Linked DNA regions of Homo sapiens. The protein of the gene in region 1 interacts with the protein of each later gene in a biochemical or structural test. Each region holds a gene or a part of one and is shown in the gene's direction. Other genes may lie near its edges.

Region 1 (3,655 bases):
TGAATCATGTGACTCTGAGAAATAAATGGGGGAAAGATGTCGTTCCAATACCCAATCCTAAATTCATTGTTTAGCTAACAATATCTGTGTTGTCAGTCTCTACAATCATAACAAAAAGACTTATGTTTTGATGATTTTGAAGTAATTGTCTATAAAAACAATAAATAATTCCCTCTTAGTTTTTTACTCTGAGTTTACTTGTTATAGTTAAGCCAGAAGTTTATTGAGGAATTTTAGGGGAGGCATTTGTAGAATAAGGCTTAGCTACTCCCTGTTGACTTTAGTAGATCCAGAGAACTGACAGATCCCTTAATTTTGGTTCCACAGAATCATCCTGATGTTGCAAGCAAATTGGCTACTTGTCCCTTCAATGCTCGCCACCAGGTTCCTCGAGCTGAAATTAGTCATCATATCTCAAGCTGTGATGACAGAAGTTGTATTGAGCAAGATGTTGGTAAGACTTAGTATCTAAAATATTTCAGTACTGGAGGGTAGCTCCTTCAGATTTGTATTATGCTAGATTGTCAGCTTGATTTTTGGCTTTCAGTGTTTTAGAAGAACAATACTTTTCCACCTTTGAGATTTGTATCATGGCAGCAATAGGTTGTCAGATTGTACATGTCATACTGTTTTCTCTCCTGAACAGCCTGGTTCATTTTACTAATAATTCATCTAAAAATAAATCTTTTATTGCCATAAATATGGTAAACATTTTTGTTTCTGCTTTTCTTTCTTCTGTCAGCAAAGAGATAAGATCCCTCTTTTAGCTTTTATACTATCCATTTTTCAGAAATAAAGACCCAACAGGCTACCCTTGCAACCTTTTAAGCTACTAGCCCCTTTGAACACAATAACTTGGCAATATCCCCCTCTTATATCCAATCTTTATTGTCTTGCAGTCAACCAAACCAGGAGCCTTAGACAAGAGACTCTGGCTGAGAGCACTTGGCAGTGCCCTCCTTGCGATGAAGACTGGGATAAAGGTGAGCTGCCTCTACATCTTTTTCTTCACAATGTCTAAATCTCAAGTCATTTGCTTAAGACAGAAGGAAGATTTTCCTTTTTTATGAACATACCATGTTGTTCAGAATGCCTTATTATTTTTATTGGGCCCCAAAACGAGCACATTTGTATCGCTGTGCAGACACGTGGAACAGCCAATCCCTCTTGATTGGAAAAAGCACTTCTTTACATCTGTTTTTTTCCATAAATTGTGTTGTACCATCTGTGTTTGATTGTTAGTAGGCACGTTTATTATTATTTATGTTGCTTGTGTTTATATTCTTCAATTAAATTCTTGCTACTGTGTCACTTAGGCAGGACACTTGATCAATTTTTACTTGCTTCTGCAAAACTTAGGTGTATTATTTCCCATCTTATAAATTCAACCAACATGAACTGCTGGTGTCTTATCTAGTAGTACCACAAACTATGTTTTGCTTCCTTTAACAGATTTGTGGGAGCAGACCAGCACCCCATTTGTCTGGGGCACAACTCACTACTCTGACAACAACAGGTAAATGAAATAGTCTTATCCCAGCATTGTCTCCCAAAATCAGCGTGTTCTGTTACCAAGAGAAGCCACCGGAGCATGAATTGACCACTTTCTTTAACGATGTTCCTTGATGGTAGTTTAGTCTAGATATTGTTTTGGCATTTTTTCATATTTATTCCTTGATTCAAAAAGGTCATGTGCTTTGTGCCAATCATAAGGGATACAAAAATACATTATCGTTTAGCAAGGGAAACAGTAGCCCCAGACTTTCATGTGTCTTAGTTATGTTTTTTGCTAGGTTTACATTATTTTAATGCTTTGAAAAAATTCTCCCACTATACCACTTGGATCATTTTTACTTTAGGTAACTAGTGTATAGGAAAAAGCAGTCTTAAAAATTCTTTATTTGAGATTGGAAAATCCAGAGTACCTATTAGGAAAGAATATGCATCTCTTCTTCCCACTGATTTTGTATCTGATTTATTTTTTTAGAGACAGGGACTCTGTCAACCAGGCTGGAGTGTAATGGCATGATCATGGCTCACTGCAGGCTCTGCCTCCTGGGCTCAAGCGATCCCCCTGGGCCTCTCAAATAGCAAGAACTATAGGGATCCACCACCACACCTAGCTAATTCTTTATTTTTGCCCAGGCTGGTCTCAAACTTCTGGCCTCAAGTGATCCTCCCCCCTCTGCCTCCCAAAGTGTTGCTCATGCCCAGCTCTAATTGAAAACTAGATGATTTCTGGCCAGGCACAGAGTAGCTCATACCTGGAGGCCAAGGTGGGAGGATCGCTGAGGCCAGGAGTTCAAGATCAACATGAGTAACACAGTAAGATCCTGTCTCTACAAAAAAATTAAAAAAAAAAAATAAGCTGGGCATGGTGGTGGATGCCTATAGTCTCAGCTACTTGGGAAGTTGAGACCAGAGGATCATTTAAGCCCAGGAGGTCGAGGCTGCAGTGAGCCATGATCATGCCACTGCACTCCAGCCTGGGTGACAGAAAGAGTCCTTGTCCAAAATAAAATAAAAATGAATGAAGCTATTTCTCATTAACACCAATACTCAAACCTTGGAAGATCAAGTTTCAAACCCAAATGAGAATATTTCTGGTTTAGGAAATGAAGGAATAAGATGCTAGACTTCACTTTTTTCCCCAAACAGAATGCTTGTCAAATTTTTACTTTTTAACTACTGAGAACAGTAAATAATTTTAAGTGTATACTATTTTATGTGCACTAAGATAGAAAAACTTAAAATGAATTCCGTTGGCTACAACTTTTAATTTTACCTCAGTTGAAGATTTGCTGCTTTTGGTTTGGTTGCCTTAGCACTTTATTTTATCTCTTACGTTTATTGAGTGAGTTGATGAGCCTGTCATACAGCTGAACAGTAGATGGCATTGCTGTTTATCTCAATTTCTAGAAAATGAAAATGGTTAGACCCATCTTAATGTCTATACAGAACAGGGAGCTTTCCAGAGAAGTAAGTGGTAATCATTCTAATTGCCGGAACGTTTTGATGGAAATGTGTTTACATTTCAGATGAATGTAGGTTGTTGTTTTTCCCCAAATTACAAAAAACACATTTTGATTATCTTACGTGTGCCTGCTTGAATGATACTGATCTGCCGACATAGCCAAATTCATCTTTTTGCAGCCCTGCGAGCAACATAGTTACAGAACATAAGAATAACCTGGCTTCAGGCATGCGAGTTCCCAAATCTCTGCCGTATGTTCTGCCATGGAAAAACAGTAAGTGAAATAGAGACAAAATAGTTTTACTCTTTTCATTGTGCTAAATACAGTTGATCTTGATTATTCAGATGTGTTCAGTCTGAACACCTTGCATTTCCATGACCCTTAAAGTGAGTGCCTCCTTAAATGTTATGCCCTAAGCACCTTACTCAGTTCACCCTACTGACCGTGGTTAGGAGCAAGAAATTATGAACAGGAAAGTATAAGATCACAGAAGCCAAAAGAATATTTTCAAAATGGGGTGACCACTGACGTCAAATACCATGAGAAAATTTGGGAGCCAATAAAAAGGTTAATGATTTGGGCTAGGAGGAAGTGATCCCTGATTTCTTTCAAGGCATAATATCAGGCCGGGCGCGGTGGCTCACGCCTGTAATCCCAGCACTTTGGGAGGCCGAGGCGGG
Region 2 (3,655 bases), about 14 Mb from region 1:
GTTCAATCAACCATGCATTCATTGATTCAATAAATACTGTACATACAAAATAGAAATACAGAAATGGGTAAGACAAGTCCTTGGGCCTAAGGACTTTATAACCTGGTATTTCACTCAACTACATGATAGCATAAATAATGTTTGCTTCTGTTTAAGTATTCCTTAAACATTATAGATCTCCCAAAGAAAATTAAATACAAACCTCTTTTTAAAGTGAATTTGACAAAGCAAAATAAATTGGAATATATAGATAAATATGCTAAAATTTGTCATATGTACTTTGCGTACTTTACATGTGTTATTTCATTCTCAGGGCAATCTAAGACAGTCACTTTTATTATCTCATTTTATAGAGAAGAAAGCTGTGCAGTAAAGAAATCAAATACCTTTCCCAAGGTTACAGAGCTAGTAGTAGAGCCTGGATTTGAATCTGGGTTCTGACTGATTTTTAACTGCCATGACAAGGATCAAAGCTCAAAGTGTGATCTCTGTGTTAGAAACATCGGGGTTGCTCTTTAAAAAAGCCGATTCTCAGGCCTCAACCCAGACCTACTGACCCAGACACTGCAAGTAGAATCCATCAAAATGCAGTAGTTACTTTGAGAATCATGAAACTCTGCTACACAGTCTGTCTTCCTATTCATGGAAGTCCTCTCCTAGTATATAAATGTGAAGTAATATTTCTATTTCAAACCTGTATTGATAACTGTCTGGAAGATAATTTTCCTGGGAATATATTATTGATGAGACTGCAAAACAGATGTGAGGTATTGGATTGATCTTTCCATTGTAGCTAGGGAAATACTGATGTTCATTGTTTCAGTGAAGTTCAATGATTTCCTATCCGAATTAACTCCCTTAATTTAACAATTTTTTTTTTTTTTTTGAGAGTGAATGCCCCTCTGGGCTTCTAGGCCACATGGTTGCTAGAGAAATTAGGTACTGTGTTGCACTTGAAAACACTAAAATCTTTCTGACTACTTTCACTGAGCAAAGAGACATAAAATGCTTTAAATTTGCAACATTTCAGAAAATAAATTTTAGTGATTATTTATGACTCGAATCTTTCAGATTTTGACAGTGAAAGTGGAAGGTTGTCCAAAACACCCTAAGGGCATTATTTCGCGTAGAGATGTGGAAAAATTTCTTTCAAAAAAAAGGAAATTTCCAAAGAACTACATGTCACAGTATTTTAAGCTCCTAGAAAAATTCCAGATTGCTTTGCCAATAGGAGAAGAATATTTGCTGGTTCCAAGCAGGTAAAGAAAACCTTAAAAAATTAATTGCTACATGGAAATTCACTATCTATTCTTTTAATTGTCAAACTAACTGTAGTCTATAATAGATGTATTAAATAAATAAATATATTTTGCTTCTAGTGTAAACCTCCTACTGACATGTATCATTTATTTTGGAATAAAACATTGCATCTGACACTTTAACAATATAGTAAATCACTTACTTTATGTGTATAGTTACTAGTTGGCTTATCACTGTTGAAATTATTTAAGAAAGGTAAATAGTGGAGATTAATGTGTGTGTGTGTCTGTGTTTGTGTATGTGTGTGTTCTTAAACAACACTGAGAGAGTTTATTAAGCAAGTTCTGAGAAGATAGTGAGTTTTCAACAGAATTTTAAAAGCATTTATGGCATCACAATGGATGCCTATGTTTTAGCCTATACTATGGAAATTTTTCCTACTGCTCTAAGCAACTGGGAAATTTATAAAGTAATATGATGTTGAAATGTGCAAATTACATTGATTGATGGATGCAGCCAATTTTAAAAATAAATATACACTTTTTTTCTAGGACATGTATTTTTCAGGATTTATATAAGATTACATTTGTCTATGCATAACTAATTGTAATAATTTATGTATTAGTGCACAGGGATTACCGAAAATATTTCATGCATCTACATCTGAGCATGCATTTGAATTGGTTATTGACCACTGAATTTTTGGTGTAGGAAAAATATGTAGTGAAACAATGTTACAAAAAGATTACAATTGTTTGGAATGATTACCTTCATTGACTTTAAGCAGTAAAATCATTTGCTCAACAAGGTTGGGTGTTTTGTGAGGCTGTATAACCATAGTGTCCTTTTGCCTTTAGTTTGTCTGACCACAGGCCTGTGATAGAGCTTCCCCATTGTGAGAACTCTGAAATTATCATCCGACTATATGAAATGCCTTATTTTCCAATGGGATTTTGGTCAAGATTAATCAATCGATTACTTGAGATTTCACCTTACATGCTTTCAGGGAGAGGTAAGTATCTAATGAAGACTTATTAGATTTTTAGAGACTATTAATTTAGACTTATTAATTTTTAGAGAAATTAGGGAGATGGCATATGAAAAGTAATATGCCATTTTCTCAGAGTTTACTTGTTTGGAAGGCAGCTGAAGAATTAGAAAATAAGCTCATAAAACCTTGGAGTAGGCAATCTAAAGACACACAAGCACATATAACCTCATCTAATTTGTCAGGAAGAAAATTCCTTAGGTGCTCACTCAGATCTTGACTGTGATTACATTGTAGGGACTGTAATTATCTCTTTTCTGTTGCACAGCCACTAAGACATTTACAAAAAAAGAGCAAATCCGGTGTTTATAATGCTAACTCTTTCTTCTAAAATAAATAGAGACATTTTGGTACTCCAAAGGGAAAATATCATTTTGGGGATTAAAATTAGCTTTACACAGGTGTTACTGGTTTCCAAAATAAACCTTACCTTGATTGGAATTAATCAACATATAGGTAGTTACATTGCATTAAAAAGTTCAGAAAGTTTTGCGTTTAGCATGATCAAAAACTTCTTTTTAAAAATTATGAGGATTTATTTATGATTTTCTTTCTTCATCTGTCGAGCATATTAAACTGCTTAACAGCATCAACCTGAAATGGATCTTAATGTGCAGGGGATTTAACTCTTTTTATTGTAAAGTTGTGGATAAAATATTTAATAGATATGGATGAGGACTCATATCAGTAACAACCCAATACTTTATTTCAAAATGAATAGATCTGTATTACAATCACTTGTGTTGTGTGCAGTAGATTTTTTCCCTTTAACTTAGGAAGCAGTTAATAATTAATGGCTCCATTTTTTAGAACGAGCACTTCGCCCAAACAGAATGTATTGGCGACAAGGCATTTACTTAAATTGGTCTCCTGAAGCTTATTGTCTGGTAGGATCTGAAGTCTTAGACAATCATCCAGAGAGTTTCTTAAAAATTACAGTTCCTTCTTGTAGAAAAGGTAAGGAAATCAATTTGAATGTTTTCAATTGCAACACTAAAGAAATTTAAACTTAAAAAAAAAAAAAACTTTACCTTAAAGCTTTGCGACAGTATGAGGTTTAGACAAGGTGTTGAGCTCTGTTTTGAATCATGTAGGCTGTATTCTTTTGGGCCAAGTTGTGGACCACATTGATTCTCTCATGGAAGAATGGTTTCCTGGGTTGCTGGAGATTGATATTTGTGGTGAAGGAGAAACTCTGTTGAAGAAATGGGCATTATATAGTTTTAATGATGGTGAAGAACATCAAAAAATCTTACTTGATGACTTGATGAAGAAAGCAGAGGAAGGTATGTTTTGATACAACTTACAAATGCTTTTAAGTGATCCTTCAATACTTATGAAGTGACT
Region 3 (3,655 bases), on another chromosome or scaffold:
CTCAGCCTCCCGAATACCTGAGATTACAGGTGCCCGCCAACATGCCTGGCTGATTTTTGTATTTCTAGTAGAGACTGGGTTTTACCATGTTGGCCAGGCTGATCTTGAACTCCTGGGCTCAAGCGATCCACCCGTCTTTGCCTCGCAAAGTGCTGGGATTAGAGGCATGAACCACTGTCCCAGCCAGAAATACAGTACTTTGAAGCAAAGGAATTTCATATCATTATACGTCAGCAGATACAGTGGTCCCCTTATCCATGGTTTCACTTTCTGTGATTTCAGTTACCTGCAATCAACTGTGGTCCAAATACATGTGAATGCAGCATAATAATAGTTTTTGAGAGACCATATTCATAAAAGTTTAATTATTAATACAGTATATTATCATTGTCCTATTTATTGTTGTAAATTTCTTACTGTGCCTAATTTATAAATTAAACTTTATCATAGGTATCTACTTATAGGCAAAAACATAGTCTGTATAGTCTTCGGTACTGTCCTCGGTTTCATGCATCCGCTGGGGTCTTGGAACGCATGTCTGAGGGATAAGGGGGGACTGCTCTTCTTTGGAGTCTCTAGAATTTCTTTTCTTTTTTTTTTTTTGTTGTTGTTGAGACAGATTCTCACTCTGTCGCCCAGGCTGGAGTGCAGTGGCGCAATCTGGGCTCACTGGAACCTCTGCCTTCCGGGTTCAAGCGATTCACCTGCCTCAGCCTCCTGGGTAGCTGGGACTACAGGCACCTGCCACAAATGCCTAGCTGATTTTTGTATTTTTAGTAGATGTGGAGTTTCACCTTATTGGCCAGGCTGGTCTCGAACTCCTGACCTTGTGATCCACCTGCCTCAGCCTTCCAAACTGCTAGGATTGCAGGTGTGAGCCACCGCGCCCAGCCCGGAGTCTCTAGAATTTCAAGTCAGCAGTAGAAGTGGTTGGTGCAGAGAGTTGAAGTTGTAATTGCAGTAGTGTCTTTCCCCAGTTGGTGTACATTTCACATCCTTGATTTGGTTAATTGACTTTCTAGAAGCCAGACATGGTGGCTCACACCTGTAATCCCAGCACTTTGGGAGGCTGAGGTGGGAGGATTGCTTGAGGCCAGAAGTTTGAGACCAGCCTGGGAAACATATCGAGACTCCTGTCTCTACAAAAATAAAGTAAAAGGTTAACATTTAGCCAGATGTGGTGCTGCATACCTGTGGTCCCAGCTATTTGGGAGTCTGAGGTGGGAGGATCACCTGAGCCTGGGAGATTGAGGCTGCAGAGAGCTGTGATTAGGCCACTGCACTTCAGCCTGGGTGACAAACCAAGAGCCTGTCTCCAAAACAACAACAAAAAATTTAGTTCCTAGGTTTAAGTAGGGCAGTTTGAACAATAATGTGTCCCATCTGCAGCCAGGAGCTGTTTCTTGAGTACTCTCTGAGAAAGGGCAGGGTGCCCTGGGTATATGGATGAGAGAATGGAAGTCATCACTGCTTTTAGAGATGTAATGATCTAGTTGAAGAGAGATTACATCCAGGGCATGCAGAGTAATAGCGTTCCTTTAAGTATTGTGGTGATCCATTAGGTTAATTATGTGTTTTTGCTAGACTCGTTAGATAGTGTTGTGTCGTGCATCTGCTTCACACATACCTATCAGGGCAATCCCCTTGCCCAGAGGAGGCTGGGCTGATCTTAGGCTGTTTGTGTTTTTAACACTTTTAGTCTGCTGTGTTTCCAGATCATTTATATAGGGCTTTGTTGAATGGTTGCTGTGGTCTGCTTGAGTCCCATCTGCCCCAAATCCTAATTATGAACACCTCCTTGGCAGCCCTTGCTTCGGTGGGCTCTGGGGACTCTGGCTCAGTCGTTGATATCTAGATAAAGATCCCTGGAGTCAGTCTGTTAAAAGGAAGGTGAGCAGAGCAGTGACAGATGCTGTCTTTGTCTAGTGTGGGCCTTCCTGCCATAACCATGAAAATTTTCTCCACGGTGACGCAGAGGAGGATTTAGGCGCTGGAGCCGGCGCCCAGGCAGTTCTGCTGTTCTTGGTTGCACATTTGTTCTCACATCCTTCGTTGCTTCACCTCTGCCCTTCTCCCCCTGCCCCCATCCCCGGGCAGTGCTGTCTTTGTAAAATGAGCCCATTTTTAGTGCACATCTCCCTAACACGTTTTTCTCTCTCCTCCTACAGGGGAGTTGCTGAGTCAGCCCAGACCGGAAGGAGTGGCAGAGATCATTTGCCCCAAGAACGGCAGCGAGCGAGTAAATGTTGCCTTGGTTTACCCACCCACGCCGACTGTGATCAGCCCCTGTTCCAAGTGAGTTCTCAAAGTCCCTCTGGCCCCGGGACCTGGCTCCTGATCCCAGCTCCATAGATATGACCACAAAAATCCAGGTTAAACTGCATCTGCACAAACCTTGCAAAGTCCTCCTGAACAGACATAATTCTTCTGGATGACATCAGCATCATGATTTATGCAGCAAAACAGGAACTTTTATTTCCTCTTTTTTGTGATTTTTTTTTTTTTTTTTACTTTAGCTAATAAAGTCAGAACATTTTTTAACAGCCTTTTTGAGATGTCATTCACATACCACAGTTCACTTACCTAAGTGTACAGTTCATTGGTTTTCAGTTTATTTGCAGGTATATGGAACCAAAAAGAACATTTTTTTTGTTGTTGTTTTTTGAGATGGAGTCTCGCTCTGTCACCCAGGCTGGAGTGCAGTGGTGCGATCTCGGCTCACTGCAAGCTCCGCCTCCCGGGTTCACCCCATTCTCCTGCCTCAGCCTCCCGAGTAGCTGGGACTACAGGCGCCCACCACCATGCCCAGCTAATTTTTTTGTATTTTTAGTAGAGACAGGGTTTCACCCTGTTAGCCAGGATGATCTCGATCTCCTGACCTCGGGATCCGCCCGTCTTGGCCTCCCAAAGTGCTGGGATTACAGGCGTGAGCCACCACGTCCGGCCTTTTTTTGCCTTTTTTTTTTTTTTTGTTTTGAGACGGAGTCTTGCTCTGTCGCCCAGGCTGGAGTGCAGTGGCGCCATCTTGGCTCACTGCAAGCTCCGCCTTCCGGGTTCGGGCCATTCTCCTGCCTCAGCCTCCCGAGTAGCTGGGACTACAGGCGCCCGCCACCGCGCCCGGCTAATTTTTTTGTATTTTTAGTAGAGACGGGGTTTCACCCTGTTAGCCAGGATGATCTCGATCTCCTGACCTCGGGATCCGCCCGTCTTGGCCTCCCAAAGTGCTGGGATTACAAAAGAAAATAGTTTTTTGACGGGCAGTCTTAACTCTGTCATTGCAGAATGAAGTTGGCTCTCACATCAAAAACCAGCGCAGGCCCATTCCATGAGCAAAGCCTGCAGAAAGTCAGTAATAGGCCGTTTTCTGTTGCATGGTTCTGATTGCGGAGTCAGTCCCTGAAAATCAAGGGCTGTGCAGTTTGCCACCACCTTGCCCCAAAATGGACTTGAAGACAGAGAACGCACACATGCCAAGTAACTTTCAGATAGAACATTGGGTTACTACTATTCTAGATAACACTCATCCTGTTGGTTTGGGTTTTATGTATGTGTGTTTTTCGTTTTGTTTTGTTTGTATTAAGAACCAAAGAGGCCGCTTTTAAGCTGAGATGAAATGCCTGTTACTTCAAATCCTGAAAAGCAGCAGCCACAGATC

Evidence for each region.
Region 2: the proteins of GTSF1 (region 1) and LRRK2 form a complex in vitro, tested with the Homo sapiens proteins (one large-scale study listed by BioGRID and IntAct).
Region 3: the proteins of GTSF1 (region 1) and MFHAS1 form a complex in vitro, tested with the Homo sapiens proteins (one large-scale study listed by BioGRID and IntAct).

The regions. Positions count from the first base shown.
Region 1 is NC_000012.12:54,459,970-54,463,624, reverse strand, and holds part of GTSF1 (gametocyte-specific factor 1), read left to right. Parts: intron 1-327; coding exon 328-454; intron 455-899; coding exon 900-983; intron 984-1,452; coding exon 1,453-1,516; intron 1,517-3,153; coding exon 3,154-3,248; intron 3,249-3,655. UniProt on the Homo sapiens protein: Required for spermatogenesis and is involved in the suppression of retrotransposon transcription in male germ cells.
Region 2 is NC_000012.12:40,318,917-40,322,571, forward strand, and holds part of LRRK2 (leucine-rich repeat serine/threonine-protein kinase 2), read left to right. Parts: exon of another isoform or gene 1-1,059; intron 1,060-1,071; coding exon 1,072-1,259; intron 1,260-2,117; coding exon 2,118-2,272; intron 2,273-3,118; coding exon 3,119-3,265; intron 3,266-3,402; coding exon 3,403-3,594; intron 3,595-3,655. UniProt on the Homo sapiens protein: Serine/threonine-protein kinase which phosphorylates a broad range of proteins involved in multiple processes such as neuronal plasticity, innate immunity, autophagy, and vesicle trafficking.
Region 3 is NC_000008.11:8,796,005-8,799,659, reverse strand, and holds part of MFHAS1 (malignant fibrous histiocytoma-amplified sequence 1), read left to right. Parts: intron 1-2,168; coding exon 2,169-2,295; intron 2,296-3,655. UniProt on the Homo sapiens protein: Probable GTP-binding protein. Functions in innate immunity and more specifically the inflammatory response as a regulator of the Toll-like receptor TLR2 and TLR4 signaling pathways.